4 separate regions of the Homo sapiens genome follow, and all the other regions are linked to region 4. The links come from fine-mapping of genetic effects on gene expression. A gene starts in region 4. Each other region holds a variant in brackets. All regions are shown on one strand. Distances are from middle to middle.

The links.
Region 1: its variant is fine-mapped to the expression of SORD in monocytes after interferon gamma (Fairfax 2014, PIP 0.95). The same link has a PIP of 0.9 or more in monocytes after LPS.
Region 2: its variant is fine-mapped to the expression of SORD in whole blood (TOPMed, PIP above 0.99).
Region 3: its variant is fine-mapped to the expression of SORD in lung (TOPMed, PIP 0.99).

What each region holds. Positions count from the first base shown.
Region 1 is chr15:45,087,211-45,093,740 of GRCh38, reverse strand. DUOX2 (dual oxidase 2) reads left to right here. Exons shown (of 34, transcript NM_001363711.2): 34 at 1-1,091. Among named protein-coding and RNA genes, the nearest start is that of DUOX2, 24 kb to the left of the region's middle. The variant G/T (reference allele first, on the strand shown) is at 3,941.
Region 2 is chr15:44,985,321-44,993,204 of GRCh38, reverse strand. No RefSeq gene overlaps it. Among named protein-coding and RNA genes, the nearest start is that of TERB2, 33 kb to the right of the region's middle. The variant G/A (reference allele first, on the strand shown) is at 3,459.
Region 3 is chr15:44,832,130-44,840,013 of GRCh38, reverse strand. It overlaps the pseudogene SORD2P. Among named protein-coding and RNA genes, the nearest start is that of TRIM69, 100 kb to the right of the region's middle. The variant A/G (reference allele first, on the strand shown) is at 3,422.
Region 4 is chr15:45,017,439-45,025,163 of GRCh38, reverse strand. SORD (sorbitol dehydrogenase) reads right to left here and starts at 1,969. Exons shown (of 9, transcript NM_003104.6): 1 at 1,815-1,969. The coding sequence starts at 1,880. RefSeq lists an enhancer at 600-1,250 and a silencer at 2,020-2,189.

The DNA of each region.
Region 1 (6,530 bases), 69 kb before region 4:
AGGTACAATAGTGCTTGTCTCCGATAGCTCCCCACATCTCTAATTGACTTCCACAAAATCGATGCGTTGCTTTGGTATTTGCTTGGACTGACATTTGAGGGAGGAGGAGGCTGGGATCCTCTGGCTGAGAATCTCCTCAGAGCCCAGTGCAGAAGCTGTGATGCTTAGAACCTGGACAGCCCGACTGCCTCAACTCTGTCTCCAGGTCTATTCCCTCCAGCTCCAAAAGGAGCAGCCCTACTTCTACCCCTTCCCGTCCCCAAAGTGTCAGCAACTTTGAGGAGGGCACCAGGAAACAAAGATGCCTCCCCAGCCCTGATATTCTTGATGTCACCAGTGATACCCACTGCCCTGACCCCTGGGCAGGCCCCTCTCTGCATCTACTGGAGTGGTCCCTGGGCTCTGGGGCTGAAGGATTCCAGCCTCTCTGCCAGATATTCAGTACTCGATCTCAATTCCCCTCTTCCACAAGAGTTGGGTGACCAGCTGTCCTAGTTTGCCCAGGACTCTCCCTGTTTTAGCACTGAAAGTCTCTTGCCCCAGGAAACCCCATCAGTCCCAGGCAGATTGGGACAGCTGGTCACCTTACGCAAGAGCCAGGCTGAAACATCCCCTCCATACTCAGCTCTTTAACTTTTCTTTTCCTTTTTCATCGGGCTCTTTCCTAAAAAGCTGAGCTGTAAAATATTTTACATCGAGGTATAATAAATAATCATGTACATGTTTTACCACCACCCAGGTCAAGACATAGAATGTTTCAACATTTCCATCACCCCAGAAACTCCCCTTGTACCCCCTTCCACTTCGTCTCCCCTAGCTCCTAGAAGCAACCACTGATGTGATTTCTACCAAATCCAGTTTTGGTCCTACTAAATATACTCTTTTGAGACTGGCCTCTTTTACTCACCATAATGCCTTTGTAATTCATCCATGCTGTTGTGTGTATCAGCAGTTTGTTCCTTTTCATTGCTGAGTAGTATTCTATTGTAGAGATGTACCACAGTTTGTTTATTCTTCTGTTGATGGACGTTTGGGTTGTTTCTAATTTTGAATGATTATAAATAAAAATTCTGTGAGTGTTCTTGTACCTATGTTTTGGTGGCCATCATGCACTCATTTCTCTTGAGTATGTATCTATGAGTGGAATTGCTGGGTCATACAGTTATCCAGCCAGTAGGACCTGTGGAGGGAGAGTTTCAGACCAGGTTTGTCTTCTCACTGGCCCCACCCTACCTCTTCAGCCAGGCCAAATGCCTCTGGTTCCCAACCCCCTCTGTTGAAGGTATCTCTCTGACAAGGCTGGAAGAGCACCAATCAGAAGTCAAGAGACCTGGATTCTAGTGCCCACTTTATCTGCAAATAGCTATGGAGGGAAATCCCTTAACTCCTCTGGGCCTCTTCCTCATTTATTCAAATGTCTGTGAGAGTATTGGGAAGTCAAATAACAATATTGGCCCAGACAATTACACAGATGAGAAAAGGCAGGAGACTGTGTTCCATAGTTGCGGTGCGTGATGATTATGAGTTCACCTATTTATCAACAGCATCATTCCTGCAGTCCTCCAGCCTTCCTGCCCTTAGTAAGTGCACAACCAGTCAGTAATCCCAAACTCCAGCCCCTTCAGTCTCAGCCTTAGCTTTACTCCCAAATCTGACCCTGCAGTTCCTCCCTATGCCTTTCTAAAAACTGTGCAAAGTATTTATTCATTCCATCCTAATTCACCCATCCTTGCTAGACTGGAGAATGGCATTAACATGGCTATCAAGATTATCCATAAAACTCTCTGCTTAGCCCTGACTTCCCTGCCATGCTGGGGCCTAAGTGAGGATCTCCCAAAGACTTTGTCATCACTGAAGATGTATCCCCAGCCAACTCTTGCCCAAACACCGGGCAATGCCAAGTGTATGTCCAGCTGGATAGAGGGACATGCTGCCATTATCTTGAGTCACTTCAGATGGCACTCAGCCTGCCTGGCCTCAGTCCTGACTCCACACGCCAGTCAGGCTGTAGATGTCAGCCCTAAGCATGTATTCATGTGATCTGGCTGCTCTGTCTAACCCTGCACAGAGTCCCAGAAAGCCACTGAATGACAGGGATAAAAGTCAAGGACTTGCAGAGAGGTTAAAAGTGTCTTCAGCCTCAACACTTGCCTAGATACTAACCTGGTCCTACCCTTCCTGGGGCTTTATGACCAACTCTTTGAGAAGTGGGCTAGAAGGCAGGATCAGGCAGCTATTGGGTGATACCTTGGGTTCAGAAAGCGAGGTCATTGCATAAGTGTGTGTCGGGGAGGGATTAGACTGAAAAATGTGCAAACGAGGGAGGCTACAAAAATGTCCCAGAGAAAGATGGAAGATGACTCAGAGGGAATTCGTGGAAATGATCACATAAACCGTGTAAAGGAAAGCAAATCTTCCCCGCTCTGGGTTACAGAGATGTTTGTCTCAGGCTTTGGGACAAAGCCCAACCCAAACCCTGCCTCCCAGGAATAGGGATGAGGATGAGAATGAAACAGGGATGGACAAGGAATCGGGTGGGATTGGATGGTAATGGGACTGTGGATGGAGAAGAGGAAGACAAGCATGAGATTGGATGGAAGGGCTTTGGGGCCAGGGGGAAAAGGAGTGGATGAGGACAGGAGGGGCTGAAGCTGAGCTCTGTAGGAGAGGAATGAAGGCTGGATCTTTGCCCCTTTTTCCAACTTTCCAGCCCCAACTTCTGCCTCAAGTGAAAGAGGAGAACATTGCTAAGATGTGGCATAATTCCTGTCTACTTACTAAGAATTTTCATTTTGTTTGGTTTTGTTTATACATGTATACACATACTGTATTTACGTACACATTATGACTGAATCATAGTTCATATACTGTCCTGACATTAACTTTTTTGCTTAGAAATAGGTCTAAATATATTTTCTTTTTTTGAAGGGGAGAGTATCCATCACCTCAAACATTCATCCTTTGTGTTACAAACAATCCAATTATACTTTTTAAGTTATTTTTAAACGTACAATTAAATTATTTTTTACTATAGTCTCTCTGCTGTGGTAGCAAATACTATGTCTTATTCATTCTTTCATTTTTGTACCCATGAACAACCCCCACTTCTCCCAACACCCTCAACTCTGGTAACCATTGTTCTATTCTCTATCTCTATGAGTCCAGTTGTTTTGATTTTTAGATCCCACAAATAAGTGAGAACACGCAACGTTTGGCTTTCTGTGCTTGGCTTATTTCACTGAACACAGTACTCTCCAGGTCCATCCATATTGTTGCAAATGACAGGATCTCATTCTTTTTTATGACTTAATAGCTCTCCACTGTGATATGTACCATTTTTTCTTTATCCACTCATCTGTTTATGGACATTTAGCTTGCTTCCAAATCTTGGCTATTGTGAACAGTGCTGCAATAAACATGGGAGTGCAGATATCTCCTTATTTATTAAGAATTTTTGAGTAAGAGGAGTCAATCCAGCATAGTACTTAAGAGTGAGGGCTCTTAAGTCAAATTGGGTTTGAGTCCTAGCTGGGTGACCTTGAGAAAACAAAGAAAACTCTCAGGGCCTCAGTTTGCTCCTTCATAAAATGGGGATAACATGATTACCTGCTCCATAGGGTTTGGGAAGATCTAATAATATAATTCAATTCAACAAATATGTGTTGAGCATCTATTATGTCCCGGGCACAGGCACAGCTTCTAGGGAACTTAAATGTTAGTGGAAGGAAACAGACAATGAACAAGATAGAAGGAAGAGGAAGAGAAGAAGGAGGTCACAGATCACAAGTGCTTTGAAGATAATAAAACTATGAAATGATAGTGACTGACTAAGGGGAACTCTTTAGATAGGATGATTAAAGAAAGCCCTCTAAGATGACGACAACAAAACTATGATGATTAATGCATACAGAGCTTGCTGTGTGCCCAGTGCTATCATAAG[G/T]ACTTGAAATGCATTAACTCACTTAATCCTTAGAACAGCCACAATCCCCATTTTACAGATAAGGGACACTGAAGCACGAAGAGGCTTAAACAACTTGCTCAAAGTTATCTAGAATGTAAGTGAGAAGACAGACTAGGTTTTTCTTTTTATAGAGACAGGGTCTCGCTCTGCCACCTAGGCTGGAGCGCAGTGGTATGATCATAGCTCACTGTAACCTTGAACTTCTGAGCTCCAGCAATCCTCCTGCGTCAGTCTCCCCAGTAGCTGGGACTACAGGCATGCACTACCATACCTAGTTAATTTTAAAGTTTTTTGTAGAGACATGTTGCCCAGACTCGTCTCGAACTGCTGGGCTCAAGCAGATCTTCCCACTTTGGGAGGAGACTAGATTTGAACCCAGAAAGTTTAACCAGATATCATGCCCTTAACTACCACTTTATCCTGTCACTCAAAAGCAGGCTGCAAGCGTTCAGGTGAAGCTAATGTATGGAGAGCCCTTAATTGTGCCTGGCACCTAGTAATATTGTTACGAGCATCACCTATTAGTAAGAGAAGCCGAAGCTCTGACAGCAGAGCTCCATAGTCTGAGGAGTTTGCGGTTTGTGGGGCCTGAGTAATGGTGAGTGACTTGTTTCTAATCCAGATTTATCCCCTATCTCATCATCCCTCCTTCTCATTTCCCCAGCTTCCCGCTCACTTTCTTGTGTCCCACCAGGTTCTGGCTCTGTGAAGCCAGGAGGAGGCCTGCTCTAACCTCCAGGGACACACTACCCAGCCACCCTGATCATGTGAAAGTCAATCCATCCTGACCTTGCATGGAGTGGAAAATTACTAAGTGACCACCTCCCTGTCTTGTCTCCAGGGAGCTGTAAATTTCCTGGGAAGTCTCTCCCTGATTTCACAGGAACCCTTATCTTCCCTGGCCAGTGACCTCAGATGAGCTGTAACATGAAGGCTCTAGCTTTTCTGAGAGTGAGAGGCTGGCAGTGAGAATTTAGGAAAGGCTGCCCAAAATGCACTGGATGCTGGAATCAGGGGACCTGAGTTTTGTTTCCAGCATTACTGCTCAAATCACCAAGTAACCTGAGGGAAGTCACCTGAGTTTTATGGGCTTCTATTTGTCTTACCAAGAAAATAAAAGAATTAGGCTGGCCGGGCACGGTGGCTCACGTCTGTAATCCCAGCACTTTGGGAGGCCAAGGCAGGTGGATCACTTGAGGCCAGGAGTTCGAGATCAGCCTGGTCAACATGGGGAAACCCATGTTTCCCCATGGGGAAAATACAAAAATGCTAAAAATACAAAAATACAAAAATTAGCCAGATGTGGTGGCGGGTGCCTGTAATCCCAGCTACTCAGGTGGTGGAGGCACAAGAATCTCTTGAACCTGGGAGGTAGAGGTTGCAGTGAGCTGAGATTGCCACTGCACTCCAGCCTGAGTGACAGAGTGAGAACCTGTCTCACAAAAAAAAAAAAAAAAAGGATTAGGCTAAGACCCCTTCTAGACCTGCAACTTCACTCTTCCCTTCTGCACTCGGTGTCTCAAATGGATAGAAGAAAACAGTTTCCTTGGCCTCTCAACCAAGGTTAAATAGTCTGGGGAAAGGGAACTAATATTTACAGGTTTACTTTGTGTTGGGTCCTGTAACACATTTACATAAATTGCCTCACTTAATCCTCACAATAACTCTCTGGAGAAGGTATTACTGCCTCCATTGTATAGACGAGGCATGTGGGACTCAGAGTACATCACCCACGGGCATCCAGCTAGTAACAGGCAAAGTGAGGGTTTGAATCCTATGATATCTCAGAGTCTCTGCTCTTTGCATCCTGATGCCTCTAAAGGTATAAGCAATCAAGGTTTTTCATAATATATTTTCCATTGTTAATTGTTCTGATGGTATTCATTGAACAACTGCTGTGAACACAGATCATACTAGATCCCACAGGGTCCAAAAGAAAAGCAAGACATACTTCCTGCCCTCCAGGAGCCAAAAACCAATCCAGCTCTAGGGAGAAAGTACAGTAACTCATCACACCAGCAAGCACAATGCTTGCTCAATGTTCCTCTTTCCTTCTCTGCTATAAGCCCCCTAGAGGGCAGGACCTATGCCTATAGTTCACTGTCATTTTTCCCCTGCCTAGTAAAGTGCCAGACAGAGAGCACATTCTCATGGGATATTTCGTGAATACATTACACTATGTGATAAGCAACTGATTAAATGCTAAGATGAGTGGATTCAGAAAGGGAATTCAGAAAAGGTCCTTGCAAGAGGGGGATTTTGAGCTTAACCTTGAAGGATAAAGAAGGTCCATGTACACATTCATCACTGGGCTGGAGTACTCACCCTGCTGACTGGACTACGTTCCTCTTCCACAGCCAGACCCTAAAGATGGCATCTTTTGAAGGAAAGAGCATCTTTGGATTCCTCTTACCTTTGGATCTGCCAACACCCAGTGTGATATGGAAACAACACCCACTGTCGTTCTGGAAAACAAGAGCCGCACCTCATCAGGACTCAGAAGAGGCTGACATCTTTGGAAGGCATAAGCTTTGGGGAATGTGCTGGAGTGGCCCCAGATGGGGAAGGG
Region 2 (7,884 bases), 32 kb after region 4:
TCCATTGTGATGATAGGGTATTGAATTTAGATCTTTCCTGCTTTCTGTTGTGGGCATTTCATGCTATAAATTTCCCTCACACACTGCTTTAAATGTATCCCAGAGATTCTGGTACATTGTGTCTTTGCTCTTATTGGTTTCAAAGAACATCTTTATTTCTACCTTCATTTCGTTATTTACCCAGTAATTCAGGAGCAGGTTGTTCAGTTTCCATGTAGTTTTCCAGTTTTGAGTGAGTTTCTTAATCCTGAGTTCTAATTTGTTTGCACTGTGGTCTGAGAGACAGTTTGTTGTGATTTCTGTTCTTTTACATTTGCTGAGGAGGGCTTTACTTCTAATTATGTGGTCAATTGTGGAATAAGTGTGATGTGATGGTGAGAAGAATGTATATTCTGTTGATTTGGGGTGGAGAGTTCTGTAGATGTCTATTAGGTCCGCTTGGTGCAGAGCTGAGTTCAAGTCCTGGATATCCTTGTTAGCCTTCTGTCTCGTTGATCTGTCTAACATTGACAGTGGGGTGTTAATGTCTCCCATTATTGTGTGGGAGTCTAAGTCTATTTGTAGGTCTCTAAGGACTTGCTTTATGAATCTGGGTGCTCCTGTATTGGGTGCATATATATTTAGGATAGTTAGCTCTTCTTTTTGAATTGATCCCTTTACCATTATGTAATGGCCTTCTTTGTCTCTTTTGATCTTTGTTGATTTAAAGTCTGTTTTATCAGAGACTAGGATTGCAACCCCTGCTTTTTTTTTTTTTTTTTTTTTTTGCTTTCCATTTACTTGGTAGATCTTCCTCCATCCCTTTATTTTGAGCTGATGTGCATTTCTGCATGTGAGATGGGTCTCCTGAATACAGCACACTGATGAGTCTTGACTCTTTATCCAATTTGTCAGTCTGTGTCTTTTAATTGGGTCATTTAGGCCATTTACATTTAAGGTTAATATTGTTATGTGTGAATTTGATCCTGTCATTATGATGTTAGCTGGTTATTTTGCCTGTTAATTGATGCAGTTTCTTCCTAGCATTGATGGTCTTTAAAATTTGGCATGTTTTTGCAGTGGCTGGTACTGGTTGTTGCTTTCCATGTTTACTATTTCCTTCAGGAGCTCTTATAAAGGGAGGCCTGGTGGTGACAAAACCTCTCAGCATTTATTTGTCTGTAAAGGATTTTATTTCTCCTTCACTTATGAAGCTTAGTTTGGCTGAATATGAAATTCTGGGTTGAAAATTCTTTTCTCGAAGAATGTTGAATATCGGCCCCCACTCTCTTCTGGCTTGTAGAGTTTCTGCCGAGAGATCTGCTGTTAGTCTGATGGGCTTCCCTTTGTGGGTAACCTGATCTTTCTCTCTGGCTGCCCTTAACATTTTTTCCTTCATTTCAACCTTGGTAAGTCTGACAATTGTGTGTCTTGGTGTTGCTCTCCTCAAGGAGTATCTTTGTGGCGTTCTCTGTATTTCCTTAATTTGAATGTTGGCCTACCTTGCTAGGTTGTGGAAGTTCTCCTGGATAATATTCTGAAGAGTATTTTCCAACTTGTTTCCATTCTCCCTATCACTTTCAGGTACACAAATCAAATGTAGATTTGGTCTTTTCACAAGTCCCATATTTCTTGGAGGCTTTGTTCATTTCTTTTCACTCTTTTTTCTCTTATCTTGTCTTCTCACTATATTTCATTAATTTGATCTTCAATCACTGATACCCTTTCTTCCACTTGATCGAATCAGCTATTGAATCTTGTGCATGTGTCATGCAGTTCTCGTGCTGTGGTTTTCAGCGCCATCAGGTCATTTAAGGTCTTCTCTACATATTTATTCTAGTTAGCCATTTATCTAACCTTTTTTCAAGGTTTTTAGCTTCCTCATGATGAGTTCAAACATCCTCCTTTAGCTTGGAGAAGTTTGTTATTATCGACCTTCTGAAGCCTACTTCTGTCAACTCGTCAAACTTATTTTCTGTCCAGTTTTGTTCCATTGCTGGCGAGGAGCTGCAATCCTTTGGAGGAGAAGAGGTGCTCTGATTTTTGGAATTTCCTGCTTTTCTGCTCTGGTTTCTCCCCATCAGGCAAGGCTAACATTGGGACAAACAAATGTTAAGGGGTACAAATAAATAATCTATAATGATAAAAAAATGCAGTTCACCAGTTACAATGTTATAAATACCTAAGCACCAAATAACTTAGCACCTCCATGAATATTAATTAAAACATAAAATCACAGGATATACAAGAAAAAATGGAAACATTGTAGTAGACGCCGAAATGACAGAGAAGGATTAAATAGCATAATTAATAACAGATAAAACTTGGTACTCAAAAAAGAGAATACACCTTTTTTTTAAAGTATCTGTGGATAATTCACAAAAATTGACCATGTATTAGGCCAAAATGAAAATATTTGTGAGATATAAACTATAGAAATAGTACAGATAACATTGTCTATATAGAAGGCATTAAAAAAGAAGAGAAGAACCAGGTGCAGTAGCTCATGCCTATAATCCCAGCAGTTTGAGAGGCCAAGGCTGGTAGATCCCTTGAGCCAAGGAGTTTGAGACCAGCCTGCGCAACAAGGTGCAACCCTGTCACTGCCAAAAAAAAAAAGAGAGAGAAGAGAACACTTTATAACTTGTTTTATGAGGCCAGCATAACCTTGATATCCAAAACAGACAAGGACATTACAAGAAAGGAAAATTACAGGATGATCTCTCTCATCAACATACATGTGAAAATTCTGAACAAAATATTAGCAAATCTAATTGTATTAATACATTCAAAGCATGTATAGTTTTTTGTTTTTTTGTTTGTTTGTTTGTTTTTGAGATGGAGTTTTGCTCTTGTTGCCCAGGCTGAATTGCAATAGCACGATCTTGGCTCATCCCAAGCTCTGCCTCCCAGGTTGAAGCTATTCTCCTGCCTCAGCCTCCCGAGTAGCTGGGATTACACGCATGTGCCATCATGCCTAGCTAATTTTTTGTATTTTTTAGTAGAGACAGGATTTCTCCATGTCGGTCAGGCTGGTCTTGAACTCCCGACCTCAGGTGATATGCCCGGCCTCCCAAAGTGCTGGGATTACAGGTATGAGCCACCACACCTCGCCAAGCATGTATAGTTTTTAAAAGCTCAACAACATGATCTGATGTGCAGTCAGGTTTGATCCACTGTTGTACATGATATAAGATGTCATCATCACAGACCATAATAGTAAATTCCCAATTGAATTGCCAATTTAGAAGCTTGACTTTTCCCGGTCACTTCAGCATTATGTAGGAAAAGACTGAACTTTAAAACCAGAGTGATCAGAGATGGAATCACAATTCTTTTTTGTTGTTGTTGTTGTTTTTTGACAGAGTCTCGCTCTGTCGCCCAGGCTGGAGTGCAGTGGCACAATCTCAGCTCACGGCACGCTCCATTGCTTGGGTTCACGCCATTCTCCTGCCTCAGCCTCCTGAGTAGCTGGGAGT[G/A]CAGGCGCCTGCCACCACACCTGGCTAATTTTTTTTTTTGTATTTTTAGTAAAGATGGGGTTTCACCGTGTTAGCCAGGATGGTCTCGATCTCCTGACCTCGTGATCTGCCTGCCTCAGCCTCCCAAAGTGCTGGGATTACAGGCGTGAGCCACCGCGCCCGCCTGGAATCACAATTCTTAGAATTTACTAGCTACGTGATTTTGGACAAGTTACCAAACCTGTTAGTGTCCATTTTTTTCAGACGTAAAATAAGAATAACACTAACTCTCTGTAATGTTCAATTGTGGAATTAAGGAGACAGTATTTATACAGGCAATATGTTGGGATGACACCCCAAAGTATCCCTAAAACTTAGAATATAAATCAATGGGACCCAAATAAAAAGGATGAGGTTAGACACCAGTAGAAATGACACAGCCAAAGAGATTATTGGATTATTTGTGGGTGTGTAATAGTCTCACCAACACCCAGATCAAATTTAAGTGGCCTGGGTATACTGTCATCTTTGGAAAATAGGAACTGGACTGCACCGGATTAGGTTAAGTCTCAACCTAATCGGTTGCATAATAACATAGGACGAAAACAATGTGCCAATCCCCACAGTAGGAACACCCTAATAACAGACATGGAGGCATCAGGCCAGTGAAGCAGGGTGGCATCAGCCATTAGAACCATGGAGCCTCCCGTACCCCACCCCTGGGGTTTCCTGCTCACTGGGCCACCTTCTGGTGACATTTTTACAGATGTGCCTATGGAAAGGGGATGACATGATGAGCCAACAAGCACATCCATCAAATCCCCTAGAGCGGTATCAATGGAAATCTAAAAGCCCTAGAAATGGGACCTTGGCCACCTCACTGCCCTTAGTGCCTGGGTGATGCTGGAGAGGATATTTTTAAGCCTCCATCTTTTTCTCCCATCCCAGTCTAGTCAGTTTATATGGCAATGAGGTGAGGAAAGGAAGCTTTGGTGATTCAGGTTTCTGGGGTGGCCACTGCATGCTTCATCATGACAAGACTGTGATGGTGACTTCTCAGACTTAGCAAATACTAGCACTTATCCCTTCTGAAGTAAAGCAGGTCCATTATGAGATGGTTTTTAATATGGCCACTTCTGGTATCTTTCATTTTTCAGAGAACATCTTGTATAACTCAAACTCCTTCTCCTCTCCTTCCTTAGTGCTGTGCCCTTGTTTGCTTCTTTCATCTCCCAGAATGCAGTCTGAACTTCAGTCACTTCCACGGCCCCCCTTTTCCTCCACACTACGCTTTTTCCCATGATCATTCTGAATACTTGTCACTGACCCTGTGGAGATCTCTTTCTCCACAGTTCATTTCCCAGTTTCACTTTCTCCTACTCAATGATGTCCCTCTCCTACCCATTCCCAGGATATGCTGAGTTTAACCACAGTCCATCATGCCAGAAAGACTAGTATGTGACGCATGGACAAAATGCTGTTTATTTTTCATGGGACAAAATGTAATGTTTTCCTGAAGGGTTATTGTTGTAATCTCTACCTGTACCAGACAACAGACAGGCTGACCTTTAGAAGGTAAAACTAAACTTCTTCCTTTTCAACTCACCCCTGTCACCATTTCAACTTCTAGGGGTTGGCAAATAAGGAGGTAGAGCTTGTTCTGTTTGATCAGTATTCTTTGCACTTAATGATCCTTATGTGCTCCAGCTTTGGCAGTTAAATCAACAATATTAATTTTGTTTTCAGTATGTGCAGAGCACCAAACCACAAGAGAAAGTGCATGACAGACAGACTCCTTGTCCTGAAAGAGATGACACTCTATGGGGAAAGACCACCCCTACTCCAAGAACACATACAACCACTCAAATGATTCAAATGGAAAAGTAGGGTGAGCGTCATCCTTACCACAAGTGCAGTCATAGGTGTGCTCCCCAAATCAGCCTGTATGGAGGCTAAGAGCATGGGCTCTGACACTTGCCATCTGATTTTAGGCAACTGCTTAAGCTCTCTAAGCCTCTTTCTTCTCTGTAAGATGGGATACCCATAGTCTCTGCTTCATAGTGTTGTAGTGAGGATTAATTAGCACATAAAAAGTGCTTAGCACAGTAATAATAATAGCTAGTTTCTTAAGCATTTGCTTTATACAACTGTGGCAGCTAAATAATGGCCATGAAAGATATCTAGGTGCTAATCCCTGGAATCTGTGAATGTTACCTTAATGGAAAAAGGGTCTTTGCAGATGTTATTAAGTATCTTGAGATGGGGAAATTTTCTTGGGTTACCTGGGTGGACCCTAAATGTAATCACAAGTGTCCTTATAAGAGGGAGATAGAGGGAGTAAAATCTAGGAAGGGTTTTACTGAGGAAGGCAGCAATGTGATGATGGAAACCAGATGTTATGCTGCTGGCCCTTGAGATGGAGGAAGGTGCCACCTTCATCCTAACCTAATATAAAAATCCAGATTTACAAAACAAGTCAGTGAAAAGATAATTATTTTTTCCTTGTTGCAACTTCTTTCACTCTGGACCCTGGGTTATGGGGTTATGGGATTGGTGAGGAGTGGTTTGGGAGAAAGCTGTGGCTTGAGGCTCTTCAGGTCTCTCCCTGGCCTAGAATAAAGTGGGTCAGGAAGGTTCTGCACATGTGAGTACAGGTGTGTGGTGAAGCCTAGTGAGGATGGTAGATTGGTAAGTATGATCCCTGGATACACCTCCCCATCATCAATGAGGAGATGGGAAGAGGTGAGAGTTGGATGAACCAATACAAGGGAGTCCTTTAGAATAGTGCCTGGCTGTATTCATTTCCTATGGCTGCTGTTATAAATTACCACAGACTTGGTGGCTAAAAACAGTACACATTCATTCTCTCACAGTTCTGGAGGTCAGAAGTCTGAAATCAGTGTCACTGAGCCAAAATCCAAGTGTCTGCAAAGTTGAGCTCCCTCCAGAGGCTCTAGGGGAGAATCTGTTTATTTCTCTTTTCCAGCATCTAGAGCTGCATTCTTGGGGACCTTCCTCCATCTTGAAAGCTGGCAGCATAGCATCTTGTTTCAGTCGTCACCTTGCCGCCTTTTTCTGTATATAAGAAGTCACCTAGGCAAGCAGTATGCTAAATGATTAATGATCAAAAGCTTAGTTGCTCTTATGAAAGACTCTACCAGACTGGCTCCTTATCATTGCCATTCAGAAGCTATTTGTGTCTTCAAGGAAGCCACTTTAAAGAAACACAAAAAACAAACCAACACCCTGTCACATATGTTCTTGTGGCCTGAGTCACAGGGAAACACAGAACGGAGAGAACCAAGTTTCCTATCTGTGACCTGACTCCACCATAGCCTAGACCCAAGTGACGCCTATAGCACTTCCAAAGTCCCTGGGAGTTTGGATCCAGGTCAGGACTGGTAAATACCAGTGGGACTGGGTCCCGGCTCAGTATCAAGATCTATCTGTTTCCCCCAAGGGTTTTCCAAATTTCCTAGGGTACCTGAGCCTGGGGAACAGCCTTTAGAACAGCACTGTCCAATAGAAATACAGTGGTCTCTTGGGATATGCAGAGGATTGGTTTCAGGACACCTCCAACACAGCTACCAAAATCCACGATGCTCAAGTCCCTTATATCAAATGGTGTAGTTTGTGCTTATAACCTACACACATCCTACTGTGTATTTTAAATCATCTCTAGATTACTTGTAATACCTAAGACAATGTAATTCTATGTAAATAGTTGTTATACTATATTTTTAAAATTTATTTTTATTGTTGTATTGTTATTTTTTTCCAGGTATATTTGATCCACAGTTGGTTCAATCCACAGAAGCAGTACCCACAGATATGAAGGGCCAACTGTATAATGTGGGCCATGTACAGTTTTATTTATTTATATTTTTAGAGACAGAGTCTCACTCTGTCACCCAAGCTGGAGTGCAGTGGCACAATCATAGCTCATTGCAACTTTGAACCCATGGGCTCAAGTGATCCTCTTGCCTCAGCCTCCCGTGCAGCTGGGACTACAAGGATGCATCACCATGCTCAACTAATTATTTTTTTTCTAGAGACGAGGGTCTACACCCTATATTGCCCAGGGTGTACCTAACTTTAAATGGTCAAGTAGCCACATTAAAAAAGTAAAAAAAAAAAAAAAAAAAAAAAAAAAAAAGGTGAAATTAATTTCAACAATATATTTTATTTAAACCAATATATCCTAAATATGATTTTAACATCTAATCAACATGAAAATTATTCTGTTTTTGGCTGGGCACGGTGGCTCACACCTGTAATCCCAGCACTTTGGGAGGCCGAGGCTGGCAGATCACTTGAGTTCAGCAGTTTGAGAACAGCTTGGCCAACATGGTGAAATACCACCTCTACTAAAAATACAAAAATTAAAACAAAAAATAAAAATTAAATAAATACAAATACAATTCAAAAATTAGTCGGGCTTGGTGGC
Region 3 (7,884 bases), 190 kb after region 4:
AATTATAGCTGTTGTCTTTGTAAAGGCTTTGCTTTCTATCTTCCAAACAGATGAAGAAAAAATGCCTGCAAACTCCATGTATTAGCTACCCCTTTTCCAGCAGTGTGAGATGGGAACTATACTTGGCTTGCCTTAGCTGGGAAGTGGCTGTGGAGATAGAGGGTGGCTTGGCTTGTTGCAGGAGCTGGAAAAAGGGCAGGCCACACTGGGCTGTGGAGGAGGGGGCTGGTCCTTTTCCCCCAGAGTGACTCTGTGCTTCATCCCGAGTTTCCTCACTTGCCTAAGACACCCTGGGTCCCCAGGGAGGAGGGTGGCTCGTTAAGCTAGATTCTCTCATCTGGCATCTGCCCATGAGCATGCAAGCCTTCATAACATCTCTGCTTCTGCTGTTTTCAAAGGTTGGAAAACAAAGAACCGGACCAAAGAGGAGGCAGACTCTGCTCCCACCCTCGGACATGGTGCCATCTTTGTTTTCCTCTCCAGGTGATCGTGTTGCCATCGAATCTGGTGCTCCCCGAGAAAATGATGAATTCTGCAAGATGGGCCGATACAATCTGTCACCTTCCATCTTCTTCTGTGCCACACCCCCTGATGATGGGAACCTCTGCCAGTTCTATAAGCACAATGCAGCCTTTTGTTACAAGTTAGTGTCCACAGTCCCACTGGGTCACCTGGGACCTCTTTCCCTTCATTAACTTGGTGCTGTTTCCTGTGGTTATTTCTTTATTCTTTCAGCTCCTAATTCCAAACATGAGGCATCGCCTGGGCAGGCTACTCTTCTTGGTGGCATTGAGAGAGGGTAGCCTCCCTAGGAATAAGACTGACTCACAGTGGTTGGTTTTAGTCTTTCAGTTCCAGTTTCCCTTACTTAGAGCAACAATAGAAAATTATTGCTGAAATCACTCACCCTCTGCAGACATCCTGGAGGGAATTCCTGTGGTTCATCCTCTGTTATTAGTTTCCACTGCAACCACCAGAAAGGAAACCTGTAACAACAATGACCTCGACAATAGCAACAACACACCATGACAGCAACGGCTGACATTTCCTGAGGTGTGGTGTGCTGCCAGGGCTTGAGTTCTGGGATCCTGGATCTACTCCCTCCTGGCAAGTGAATTTGGAGAAATGATTTAACTTTTCTCTGCTTCAGTTTCATTTAATCGCCAAAATATTAAATAAGGTGATGCATGGAGAGTCATAATTATTATTACTATGTGCCTGCCCTTGTGCTAATAAGTGGTTTGCATGCTTCAATTTATTTAATCTCCACAAGAATAATGCTGAGGTGGGCACCATTTTTGGGTTAACCAAGGCAGAAGGAAGCTCATTGACTTGGGCACAGAGCACAACCAAGAGTCAAACTGGGGTCTCTGTGAGTCTCAAGCTCCTGCCCTGTGCCCACTCCCCTACCCTACTCCAATTCTCACCCCTGAAATTGTGAAGTTGAGTCTGGAGGAAGCAAAGTGCCTCCCTTTCTGCGTGGCCCCCCATGGCCCCAGCCGTGGAGCTCTAGGGTGCCGAAGTGCCGCTTTCCCCCTGACCCAACCCAGATGCATTCTTCCCCCACCGCAGCCTGGCCTCAGTGGTGGTTTTCAGCCAGGATGGGGCTTGTCCGATGGAGGCCAGGTGCCAGTCACAGGAGCAGTCTGACAGATCTGAGTTTTTCTAGGGCCCACTGGGAGCCTTGAGAGGAGTCACAGGCCAGAGACCTTGTGATGGGTTTAAGTCAACACCTGAACCTGCTCTAGAAGTAAGCAGGTTACATGTGCAGAGTACACCTTTCAGCAAGTGGTTCCTGAATGGGCCCATCTTTCTGGGGCCCTTTCCAAGTCAAGACACCAAACGAAAGTTTCATGGAAGGCAGAAGAGCATAGTGGTGAAGCCCACTGGTCTCTGCCAATTACAACTGTGTGACCTTGGGCAAGTCACTTAAATTTTGTAACCTCAATATCCTCGCCTGTAAAATAGAAATAGTAATGGTACCTCCCTCACAGAATTACTGATGAGATCCAATGAGAAAAGCATATCAAGTCTCCAGCATGAGGTCTGGCACATAGTAGGTGCTCAGTAAATGGTACCAAGCTATGCCATAGTCATGGCCTAGTGGTCTGGGCATGGAGGTGCAGGAGTAGGCCTGAAAGAGAGCCTTGTGCTGGTGGTTTATAGGGAATGATGGGGCTCTGGCTGGCAGTGGCAGTGGCAGTGGGGGTGCTGAGGAAGGTCTCTGGGGAGTCCTACAGCCCTGCCTTTCTTCTCCTCCCAGGGGGCTTTCTGCCTGTGTCCCCAGTTCTTCCCTAGACCCAAGCCCTCCTCTCTGATGTCTTTTTAGGATTCCCATACTACCACAGCCTCTTTATTTTTGTATCTATTTTCTTTCTATTTTCCTGCTTCCTCCTTGGCTTCTTGATCATCCGTTACCCAATTTGGACTGTTCCCTGAACCCCATTGTAAAAACTACCAAGTTGCCTCATCACTCTCTGGTGTTTATAAAGCATGAAAGGTTGGGGCTGGGAAGAAACTTGGAGTCTTCTCATCCTCGTTCTCCATCAACCCCCACTGGACAAGATTGGGGAGGGTGGAGTCAGTGGTTTTCCCAAGGTCAGTGGCAGCGGGGCTGGCCTCCAGGACTCCTTGTGCATGCTTCTGCCTCCACACCAGGTGGCTTTCCAACACAGTTGGCTGTGTTGGGTGCAGGCGGATGAGGCAGCATCTGCTTAATCAGTAGAGTATTCTTCCTGATAACAATCTTCCCTCATCACCTTCCCCAATCCCATCTCTCCTTGATGTAGTTTCCACGCAAGCCACCCTCTGCATAGAGCCCTTATGAGTTCCTCAGGAGGCCCAGATGTGGAAGGGCAGGCATGTCTAGGAACCTGTGGAGTCCCTAAGAGAGTTTAGGCATCTTCACAATTTCATTTTCACCTTTTTCCTATTATATAGAAGGGATACTTCTAGGGGGAGTAGAAGGAGTGTGACCGCAGTCAGAGCAGGAGAGTGGATTGGAGTAGGGGAAGTGATGGGAAAGAAGCCGAGGGGAAGGGATAAGGGGGTGGTGGGTGGCAGCTGGGCCTCCATTGGCCTGGTGAGTAGTTCTGTCAAGGATCAGGGACAGTGACAGGAGGACTCCGAGTTATTCTGTTGAAGATTGGAGACAGTGTTGAAAGGATCATGGGGATGAGCACATGGTTTGGCTGTCACATTTATTTCTTTTTGGAACTTGAGGGTTTTCCTGTTCCTGTGTGTGGAGATTTGGGGTGCTGGGTAAATCCTGGGCAGTGAGGAACTAGCAGAAATTAGATATTAATATTAGCTACACAGCTGCTCATACCAGGATGGAGCTGATATGGGACAGGCAGAGGATGTGGAATCAGGACACCTTTGTTAAGTCTGGCCTTCATTCCCTAGCTTCATAACCTTGGCA[A/G]TTCTCTTAATGTCATGTCAGTGAGTTTCCGTTTACTCTTCTGTAAAATAAATGTTTTTTAAAAAAAGCCTGCCCTACCTGCCTAACATGGTTTTCATGAGGATTAAATGAGATAACGGATGAGCATGCTTCCTAATCTGTAAAGCTTTATGCAGATATTTGCTGTCGTCATCAGCTGTATTATTGATAGGGTTAAGATGCCAGTGGAAGTGAAAACCTAGAACCCAGAGTGAAGGTGACACAGCATTTAATCTGCTATGTGGAACAGGTCCTTTCATCTTAACTGGTCCTGGGTCAGCGGGGCAGCTGCTGTCCTCAGATGTGGTTCTTCTGGAATGTATAATATGGGAGGCGACTATCAGAGTGATGCCCATTGCTAAATCACTGTTCTGCAAAACTGGTGATAGTCAGGATTGTTTGCTAAAGTGAAACTAAAAAGGCTGTAAGTTTGGGAAGCAGATGAGATGCTGGAAGGTGGCCATATTAACTCCTTGTTAAATAAACTTTTCGGCCGGGCATGGTGGCTCACACCTATAATCCCAGCACTTTGGGAGGCTGAGGCGGGCGGATCACAAGGTCAGGAGGTCGAGACCATCCTGGATAACACGGTGAAACCCCGTCTCTACTAGAAAATATAAAAAATTAGCCCGGCATGGTGGCGGGCGCCTGTAGTCCCAGCTGCTCAGGAGGCTGAGGTGAGAGAATGGCGTGAACCTGGGAGACAGAGCTTGCAGTGAGCCGAGATTGCGCCACTACACTCCAGCCTGGGAGATAGAGTGAGACTCCATCTCAAAAATAAATAAATAAATAAATAAGTAAATAAATAAACAAACTTTTCATTTATTAATGATAACCACCATACCGTACCTTGGATAGCACATTAAAGAAAACATAATGTGTTCATTTCACTGAATTGATTTACCCAAAGAAAACCATGTTGCCTTCTTCAGATGGGGACATTGTGGCATGGGTTCTGTGATGAGAACATATCTGGCTTCTAATTTGAACGCTTTTGGCTCCTCACTAGCTTTGGACCGCTGGGGCAAGTCATTTAACCCACCACGCCTGTTTCCTCATCTGTAAAATGGGAATGATAGTACCTACCACAGAACTATTCCAGGGATTTACGTGAGTTAATGTATATAAATTGCTTAGCACATTGCTCTGCACATAAATAAATGCTCAATAAATGTTAGCTATTGTTGTTATTACAGTGACGTTGGGCATATATAATACTATTGTTAGCATTGTAGTTAACTCAGAGGATCTCTGTGTGTCAATTGACTCCTCAGGCTTCCTGACAATGTCACCTTTGAGGAAGGCGCCCTGATTGATCCACTTTCTGTGGGGATCCATGCCTGCAGGAGAGGCGGAGTTACCCTGGGACACAAGGTCCTTGTGTGTGGAGCTGGTAAGAAACAGAAGCCACCCTGTTGCGGGTTCATTGACTGGGAATTCAGGGAACCCTCTGCCCATCTCATTCCCCCTCCAAGGCTTGAGATTTGTTCTAGAATCCTTCTGGGTAAAGGAGGATTGCAGTGTCCCATTCCCTCAGTGACTAGCACTTTGCTAAACAAATGAGTATCTGTGGACATGATATTAACTAGGGTTATATGTCCTAGGCAACATAGCCCTTTCATTCATTTAAAGAATGAATTGGCTGGGCACGGTGGCTCCTGCCTATAATCCCAGCACTTTGGGAGACCAAAGCCGGTGGATCACTTGAACCCAGGAGTTCGAGACCAGTCTGGGTAACATGGTGAAACCCCATCTCTACAAAAAAATACAAAAATTAGCCGGTGTGGTAGTGTGTGCCTATAGTCCCAGCTACTCAGAAGGCTGAGGTGGGAGGGTCACTTGAGCCTGGGAGGTCAAGAGTGCAGTGAGCCATGATTGTGCCACTGAACTCCAGTCTGGGTGGCAGAACAAGACCCTGTCTCAAAAAAAACAAGACCCCATCTCAAAACAAACAAACAAAAAGAATGAATCTGTGCCAGGCACAGTGTCTCATGCCTATAATCCCAGCACTCGGGAAGGCTGAGGCGGGTGGATCACTTGAGGCCGAAAGTTCAAGACCAGCCTGGCCAACATGATGAAACCTCATCTTTACTAAAAATACAAAAATTAGCTGGGTGTGGTGGTGCGCCCCCTGTAGTCCCACTTACATGGAAGGACGAGACAGGAGAATCACTTGAACCTGGGAAGCAGAGGTTGCAGTGAGCAAAGATCATGCCACTGCGCTCCAGCCTGGGCGACAGAGCGAGATTCTGTCTCAAAAAAAAAAAAAAAAAAAAAAAAAAAGGGAATTAATCTGGCGATTATTTTTGAACCCTTGATGGGAAACTAGGAAAATTTTTTTATTTGCGTGATCTTGGCTCACTGCAACCTCCACCTTAGAGAAATATTTTTGATAGTAAAGGGAAGGGCAACTCTTGGAACTTTCAAATTATACCAGCAAAGTGATGGCCTAGTCCCATCTATGAATAAGGTAGACCCTGCTCCCAGCCAGTGGGAGGAGTGAGCAGTGGTCTGCTCCCACACCACTGTGAGCCAGCAGTCTGCCTGCAGTAGGGTTGTAGCTAGCTGCCTTCTCTCATCCCCTGTTTCCAGCCATCTTTCCAGCCATCTGGAACAAGCCCTAGCAGCCTCAGAACGAATCATTCTGGTGACCCAGACAGTACGCTCACACTCCTTGTGGGTGTGATCTGGTGTTCCTCATACTTGTTTGTGATTTTCTTTGGCTGGCCAAATAAGTGATCACACGGCTTCCTAAGAGGGGTGATGGATGTAGAATAGACTTGCCACAATGGGCTAGCAGACTGCGGGACTCAGGTGACAGATTCTTATAAAAATCTGCATGGATCCAGTACCTTTTTACCATAGAAAAGGAAAATAAGTCACACATACCACACACATGCATGCCTTGCCCCCAACACACACACACACAGAAATTCACCTGTAATCCCATTACCGATTAGCCCAAGAGAACCACTATTAATATTTGGGTATAGAATCTTTTAGTTAGTTGGTTTTTTCTGAGACCATGCTAAATACGCTTCCTTTACCTACTCTTTTTTAAAAATCAGGCTGGGCACAGTGGCTCATGCCTGTAATCCTAGCACTTTGGGAGGCTGAGGCAGGCAGATCACCTGAGGTCAGGAATTTGAGATCAGCCTGGCCAACATGGTGAAACCCTGTCTCTACTAAAAAAACAAAAAGTAGCCAGGCTTGGTGGCGGGCGCCTGTAATCTCCACTACTTAGGAGGCTGAGGTGAGAGAATTGCTTGAACCCGGGAGGCGAAGGTTGCAGTGAGCTGAGATTGCAACACTACACTCCAGCCTGGGTGACAGAGCAAGACTCTGTCTCCAAAAAAAAAAAAAAATCAATATACTGTGAACATTTTTCCATGTCAATAGATAAAGAGTTATGGCGTAATTTTTAGTAGCCATGTAGTTTTTTAATCATGCTTTGTTGGACATTTCAGGTATTATTTTTCAGTGTTTTGTTTTCTGAGGGAGCTCACAAAATTGTTCTTAGGGGATGTGTACAAAAAGTAAACCCCCAAAGATATTCTGCATTGCTTTCATTCTGTGGGTCTGATTTTTATATTAAAACCATAGTGTCACATAGCATGCAGATACTATGGGGAAGCAGGTGTCTCAGGCAAATCCTTGGATACCTGAGTATCCTGGGGCTATCTGGGCACCTGGGCCAACCCAGGGAGCCAGCTCACTTAAGAACCCTCTCCAGGTGGTCCTCAGAGGGCACCTAAAAGGAATATGTCTCTCTCTGGGGGAGGTGTGATGGGTTCTCACGAAGGTAGGGGCAAAGAAAGAACAGGAAAACAAGTCCAGACCTTCTGAGATTTCTTATTTTCTGAGTAAGTTTGTGTTTCCTTGAATCCCGTGGTTCTTTGAGATTATCTCCACTAGTGCCCAGGAGTAAGTGGGAAAATTTTAGCTCTGAGGTTTGAGAGGATTAAATAGAACCCAGCACTAGGAGCGTATTTTATGTAGAGAATAATTCTTCATGGATTCATTCTCTTCTGCATTCAACAAACAGCCGCTAAGGTCTTATCATGCCAGGCACTGGGATAGATGCTAGAGACACACAAAAGATATGGTTCCTGTCCGTGGCCTGGACAAGTGGGAGAGCAGATGTTTAATATTTCACAATCTTATATCTTTTGCTTTGTTTAGGGGCAATCGGGGTAGTCACTTTGCTCGTGGCCAAGGCAATGGGAGCAGCTCAAGTAGTGGTGACTGGTAAGACTTTGTTCTTTATCAATCTCCTTGACTGGGAAACAGCTGGTCCTACTGTATGTGCATGTGTGAGGAGAGGTTATCCGTGACAGTGTGGAGGGGGTGAGTGTGTAGTGTCATATGGATTGTGGAGATATAGAGGAGTGTGAGTGTGTGTTTTGTGTTAGGAGAAGCTATGAGAGAGAGAGAGTTTGTGTGAG
Region 4 (7,725 bases):
TTCTAGATACTTCAGGTTACAGCCACCCCAACCTAGCCCCTAATCCAGTCAGAGAGTGGGTTCTAATGCAAAGCTGATGAGATCAAGGTTAGTTCGCTGCTGCTCTAATCTTCAAAGCTTTGTCTACGGAACCATAGTAGAGGTAGTCTGCCTGAGCAGTGGAAGACCATGAGTTTGAGGTAAGATGAAGGAGAACTTAACTGTGTTTCTGCACCTTAGGTGCATGACTTTTAAGCAGGCTCTGAGCAGATAGAGGGCCAAGGGCCCCTCCCTGTGGCGTCTTTTCTCTCTGAGGCCTCCATCAAAGCCCTCGGGCTCTGTCATAATTGTTGACTTTATCTGTCTGCCTCCCTCAGTAAACTTGGGAGCAGGGGCTGTGTCCTCCTTTCTGGGCCCTCAGCCCAGTGCCTGGCACATGGCAGGCACCCTTTCATGAGTGAATGTTTGTGGAATGAAGTACTGAGTTGGAAATCACTCTGCAAGCTGGGTAGAGCTGGACCACTTTCCCTTACTCATAATACCATCTGGCATTTGCAACAGTAAACACTAACAGCCTCACTTTAATTCAGGACCTTGGGTGGAGGCTCCAAAGAGTGGAATGAGCACTAGAATGGGGAGTCTGAACATCTGAGTCCTTGTCGTGGCTCTGTTAACTAACAAAACCTATCACCTTGGGTATGGTACTTTCTTCAACTGAGGAGATGGAGAGTCAGCTGGGACAAGGGTTCTATAGAGGGGCTTAGAGCGGCTTAAAGGGAGTCCTTGAGCAGTCTGAAATTGTTGCCAAACTCAGTCTATTTGCATTCTGTGGAGGGGACACCACAGATTCTTAAATAGTCAAGAACTGCTAACCTGGATAAGCTTCTGAATTACTGCAGTTTACATACTGACGCATGTACTTTGAGGGAAAAGAGGTACAGGGGAGCAGCAGAGATGGCTGGCACTCATCCCACATACCCACTGCCATCCCAGGCCCATCTGAGAGGGACTTTGTCAAGGGAGGCTTGGCATGACTAGGCTGCTGACTCAGCCACTTCCTAAACTTTGGTGCCACAAGCCAGGGAGCAAAAGGCAGGGTCTAAGGCAGAGGACACACATACAGAATGCTCCTAAAGGGACAGAGGCACGGGATTGGAAAGAAAAACTGCTGGAAAGTGAACCAGACAGGGTCTTAGGGAGAGAAGGATCCTTACAGACAAGGGAGCTATCAAGATCCACAAGTCTGGCACAGGCAAGGGGAACAGCAGGGGTTCTGGAGATGGAGGCCTAGACTGGAAGGAAAGGAGAAGGAGCTGGCACTTCCTGAGCACGTACTAAGTGCTGAGTACTCTTGTGATCATCATAATCCTGCAAGGGAGGTTTATCAGTCCCAAGCAAGGGAGTTAAATACAAGTTCTGCTGTTTCTAAGTGTCCTCTGGCCCCCCTTTCTCTGCTCTGCACGGTCTGCCCCGATAATTCAGACAGCCTTAGCATTTCCTTTGGAAAGGTCAATGACAAGAGGCTGGACTATGAATCTGCAGCTGGCAAAGGAGAGAGAAAGCTTCATTCAAACAGTTTGCAACCGTCCTGGGCACCGGCCACGTGCCAGCCACGGGGCTAGGTTCCGGGAGGCACACGACTAGATCCCTGCCCTTCGCAACAGCCACTACCTGCTGCCCCCACACCCCGAGGGGAACCAGCTGGGATCTGGGCAGCCAGGGCGCTTAAGGTGCGGGGCCGGCGCCAGGCTGGAAGTGGGAAGCCAGGACTATGGCTGGGCTCAGAGGAGAGTGAGGCAGGATCGGTATGCTTCCCACCCTCCTTCCCAGCTTACCAGGCGCAAGTCCCCCGGTCCGTGCACCACCAGGGAAAGGTTGTTGGGCTTGGCCGCCGCCGCCATGGAGCTCTTTTGGCTCTGGAGTGCGGCCTGGAAGGCGCGGGACGTTTGGTCGCTCTGGTGGCGCTACCCAGCCGAGGGTCCAGGGCACTGGATGGAAGGTGGGGCCTGGGAGAAGCGCCGCACGCAGGGGCGGGACTAGGCTTCCTCCTTTGTGCCAGCCTGGGCGGCGCTAGCGTGGAGGGGCGGGGCTTCCCAGCCTCCTCCAGACCCGGAGGCGGGGCGGGGCTTCGGGAGGGGGCTGGGAGCGAGAAGCCCGGGTGCTGGCTCCATCTGCAGCGCGCTGTTTTTTTTGTTTGTTTGTTTGTTTGTCGCCGAGGCTGGAGTACAGTGGTGCGATCCCGGCTCACTGCAAGCTCTGCCTCCCGGGTTCAAGCCATTCTCCTGCCTCAGCCTCCCGAATAGCTGGGACTACAGGCGCCCACCACCACGTATTTTTGTTTAGTAGAGACGGGGTTTCACCGTGTTAGCCAGGATGGTCTCGATATCCTGACCTCGTGATCCACCCGCCTCCGCCTCCCAAAGTGCTGGGATTACAGGCGTGAGCCACCGCGCCGGCCCTGCAGCGCGCTGTTTTTGCCGCCTCACATGCAAGCACACACGGCTGCCTTGAAAACCGCCTGCAGAGGCAGTAGGCACCAGACCAGCGCTCTCAAACGTTAGCTGCAGAAGAATTGGGGTGGGGAATGTGAGGCGCTGTTGAGAATGCACATTCTCAGGACCAGCACAGAGATTCTGATACAGTAGGTCTAGGTCTGAGGTGCTGCCTGAGGGTCCATATTCCTAGCAACGAGAATGCTGAGGCTGTGGGTGGAGCACGGTGTGCACTTTGCGAGACAGGTGCTACCATGACGCAGCGTCCACGTCGGCCCTTTGTCTCCAGCCCCCAGGAAAGGGCCTGGCACGAGTAGGAGTAAATGAATTCGTGCATCATTACATGGGCCTGGTGCTTAAGTATAAAAAAGACATGAGGCCGGGCGCAGTGGCTCTTGCCTGTAATCCCAGCACTTTGGGAAGCCGAGGCAGGTGGATCACCTGAGGTCAGGAGTTCGAGACCAGCCTGACCAATATGGTGAAAACCCCGTCTCTACTAAAAATACAAAAATTAGCCGGGCATGGTGGCATGCGCCTTAATCTCAGCTACTCGGGAGGCTGAGACAGGAGAATAGCTTGAACCTGGGAAGCAGAGGTTGCAGTGAGCTGAGATCATGCCATTCAACACCAGCCTGGGCAACAAGAGTGAAAATCTGTCTTTAAAAAAAAAAAAGCCATGAAATGGAATTTGTGAACCTCTTTCTCTCAACTGGATCTGCTGCTTCTATTCAAAGCAGAGTTTCTGCCCAAACTCTTCCTTCAAGCCTCTCAGCCCTCTGAGAAACAGTGAGGTTTTACTCTCTGAGGAGAGAGGCGCTTCTAGATAGGCCTAAGTCTATAAGGCCCCTCCCTCCTTTGAGGATAATGCTCAGGATTTCATTCCCTTACAGTCCCCCCTCCCCAATATGTAACCGCCCAATGGATTCACCTTGCCTGCTGCCTAGACAAAACTAATTTATCAAGACAGGGGAACTGCAATAGGGAAAGAGTTCATGCAGAACCAGCTATGCAGGAGACTGGAATTTCATTATTGCTCAAATCCGGCTCCCCAAGCATTCGAGCATACGGGGACTCAGAGTTTTTAAGGATAGTTTGATGGGTGGGGAAAGGCCAGTGAGTCAGGAGTGCTGATTGTTTGGGTCAGAGATGAAATCATAGGGGATCTAAGCTGTCTTCTTGGACTGAGTCAGTTTCTGGGCGAGGGCCACAAGGTCAGATAAGTGAGTTTATCAATCTGGTTGGTGCTACGCCTTGAGGGACCGGTGCCAGTATAGGCTGTATTTGTTCCTTGCTGAGGGCCCTGGTTCCTCTGGCTAAGATTAGGCCTAGATATTTGACTTGTTGTAGGCAGAGCTGGGCTTTCAGTTTAGACACCTTGCCCGCTTGATTACCTAGAAAGTTCAAGAGATCTAGAGTAGCCTGCTGGCATGAGGCTTCCAAATTGGTAGCCAAAAGTAAATCATCCAGATTCCGTTCCAAGATGGCCAAATAGGAACAGCTCCGGTCTGCAGCTCCCAGTGTGATCGATGCAGAAGACGGTGATTTCTGCATTTCCAACTGAGGTACCTGGTTCATCTCATTGGGACTGGTTGGACAGTGGCTGCAGCCCATGGAGGGTGAGCCGAAGCAGGGAGGGGCATTGCCTCACCCGGGAAGCGCAAGCGGTTGGGGGATTTCCCTTTCCTAGCCAAGGAAAGCTGTGACAGACTGTACCTGGAAAATCAGGACACTCTCACCCAAATACTGCACTTTTCCAACGGTCTTAGCAAATGGCACACCAGGAGATTAAATCCTGTGCCTGGCTCAGTGGGTCCCACGCCCACAGAGCCTTGCTCACTACTAGCACAGCAGTCTGAGGCAGCAGCCTGGCAGGGGAGGGGCGTCCGCCATTGCTGAGGCTTGAGTAGGTAAACAAAGCAGCCGGGAAGGTTGAACTGGGCAGAGCCCACCGCAGCTCTGCAAGGTCTGCTGCCTCTGTAGACCTCACCTCTGGGGGCAGGGCATAGGTGAACAAAAGACAGCAGAAACTTCTGCAGACTTAAACGTCCCTGTCTGACAGCTCTGAAGAGAGCAGTGGCTCTCCCAGTACAGTGTTTGAGCTCTGAGAATGGACAGACTGCCTCCTCAAGTGGGTCCCTGGCCCCCATGTAGCCTAACTGGGAGACACTTCCCAGTAGGGGCCAACTGACACCTCATACAGGCGGGTGCCCCTGTGGGACGAAGCTTCCAGAGGAAGGATCAGGCAGCAACATTTGCTCTTCTGCAATATTTGCTGTTCTGCAGCCTCCACTGGTAATACTCAGGTAAACAGGGTTTGGAGTTGACCTCCCGCAAACTCCAACAGATCTGCAGCTGAGGGACCTGACTCTTAGAAGGAAAACTAGCAAATAGGAATAGCATCAACATCAACAAAAAGGACATCCACACCAAAACCCCATCTGTAGGTCACCAGCATCAAAGGTAGATAAAACCACGAAGATGGGGAGAAACCAGAGCAGAAAAACGGAAAATTCTAAAATCCAGAGTGCCTCTTCTCCTCCAAAAGATCACAGCTCCTCATCAGCAACGGACCAAAGGTGGACGGAGAATGACTTTGATGAGCTGAGAGAAGTAGGCTTCAGAAGGTTGGTAATAACATACTTCTCCCAGCTAAAGGAGGATGTTCAAACCCATCGCAAAGAAGCTAAAAACCTTGAAAAAAGATTAGACGAATGGCTAACTGGAATAAATAGTGTAGAGAAGACCTTAAATGACCTGATGGAGCTGAAAACCATGGCACAAGAACTATGTGATGCATGCACAAGCTTCAACAGCCAATTCATTCAAATGGAAGAAAGGATATCAGTGATTGAAGATCAAATTAATGAAATAAAGTGAGAGGAGAAGTTTAGAGAAAAAAGAGTAAAAAGAAATGAACAAAGCCTCCGAGAAATATGGGACTATGTGAAAAGACCAAATCTACATTTGATTGGTGTACCTGAAAGTGACAGGGAGAATGGAAACAAGTTGGAAAACACTCTTCAGGATATTATCCAGGAGAACTTCCACAACCTAGCAAGACAGGCCAACATTCAAATTAAGGAAATACAGAGAACACCACAAAGATACTCCTCAAGAAGAGCAACCCCGAGACACACAATTGCCAGATTCACCAAGGTTGAAATGAAGGAAAAAATGTTAAGCGCAGCCAGAGAGAAAGGTCGGATTACCCACAAAGGGAAGCCCCTCAGACTAGCACTGGATCTCTCAGCAGAAACTCTACAAGCCAGAAGAGAGTGGGGGCCAATATTCAACATTCTTCAAGAAAAGAATTTTCAACCCAGAATTTCATATTCAGCCAAACTAAGCATCATAAGTGAAGGAGAAATAAAATACTTTACAGACAAGCAAATGCTGAGAGGTTTTGTCACCACCAGGCCTCCCTTACAAGAGCTCCTGAAGGAAACACTAAACATGGAAAGCAACAACCAGTACCAGCCACTGCAAAAACATGCCAAATTTTAAAGACCATCAATGCTAGGAAGAAAATGCATTAAATAATGGGCAAAATAACCAGCTAACATCAAAATGACAGGATCAAATTCACACATAACAATGCATGATGGGTTCAAACATCCTTCTTTAGCTGGGAGAAGTATGTTATTACCAACCTTCTGAAGCCTACTATATTAACCTTAAATATAAACGGGCTAAATGCCCCAGTTAAAAGACATGGACTGGCAAATTAGGTAAAGATTCAAGACCCATCAGTGTGCTGTATTCAGGAGACCCATCTCACCTGCAGAGACTCACATCGGCTCAAAATAAAGGGATGGAAGAAGATCTAACAAGCAAATGGAAAGCCAAAAAAAAAAAAAAAAAAGCAGGGGTTTCAATCCTAGTCTCTGATAAAACAGACTTTGAACCAACAAAGATCAAGAGACAGAGAAGGCCATTACATAGTGGTAAAGGGATCAATTCAAAAAGAAGAGCTAACTATCCTAAATATTTATGCACCCAATACAGGAGCACCCAGATTCATAAAACAAGTCCTTAGAGACTTACAAAGAGACTTAGACTCCCACACCATGATAATGGGAGACTTTAACATCCAACTGTCAATATTAGACAGATCAACAAGACAGAATGTTAACAAGGATATCCAGGACTTGAACTCAGCTCTGCACCAGGCAGACCTAGTAGACATCTACAGAACTCTCCACCCCAAATCAACAGAATATACATTCTTCTAAGCACCACATAGCACTTATTCCAAAATTGACCACATAGTTGGAAGTAAAGCACTTCTCAGCAAATGTAAAAGAACAGAAATCACAACACACTGCCTCTGAGACCACAGCGCAATCAAATTAGAACTCAGGATTAAGAAACTCACTCAAAACCACAAAACTACATGAAAACTGTACTGTTCCTGAATGACTACTGGGTAAATAATGAAATGAAGGCAGAAATAAAGATGTTCCTTGAAACCAATGAGAACAAAGACACAAAGTACCAGAATCTCTGGGACACATTTAAAGCAGTGTGTAGAGGGAAATTTATAGCACTAAATGCCCAGAAGACAAAGTAGGAAAGATCTAAAATCAACACCCTAACATCACAATTAAAAGAACTAGAGAAGCAAGAGCAAACAAATTCAAAAGCTAACAGAAGGCAAGAAATAACTAAGATCAGAGCAGAACTGAAGGAGATAGAGACACAAAAAACCCTTCAAAATAATCAGTGAATTCAGGAGCTGGTTTTTTGAAAAGATCAACAAAATCGACAGACTGCTAGCAAGACTAATAAAGAAGAAATGAGAGAAGAATCAAATAGACACAATAAAAAATGATAAAGGGGATATCACCACCGATCCCACAGAAATACAAACTACCATCAGAGAATACTATAACCACCTCTATGGAAATAAACTAGAAAATCTAGAAGAAATGGATAAATTCCTCGACACATACACCCTCCCAGGACTAAAGCAGGAAGAAGTTGAATCTCTGAATAAACCAATAACAGGTTCTGAAATTGAGTCAATAATTAATAGACTATCAACCAAAAAAAGTCCAGGGCAAGACGGATTCACAGCCGAATTCTACCAGAGGTAGAAAGAGGAACTGGTACTATTCCTTCTGAAACTATTCCAAACAATAGAAAAAGAGGGACTCCTCCCTAAATGATTTTATGAGGTCAGCATCATCCTGATACCAAAGCCTGGCAGAGACACAACTAAAAAAGAGAATGTTAGACCAATATCCCTGATGAA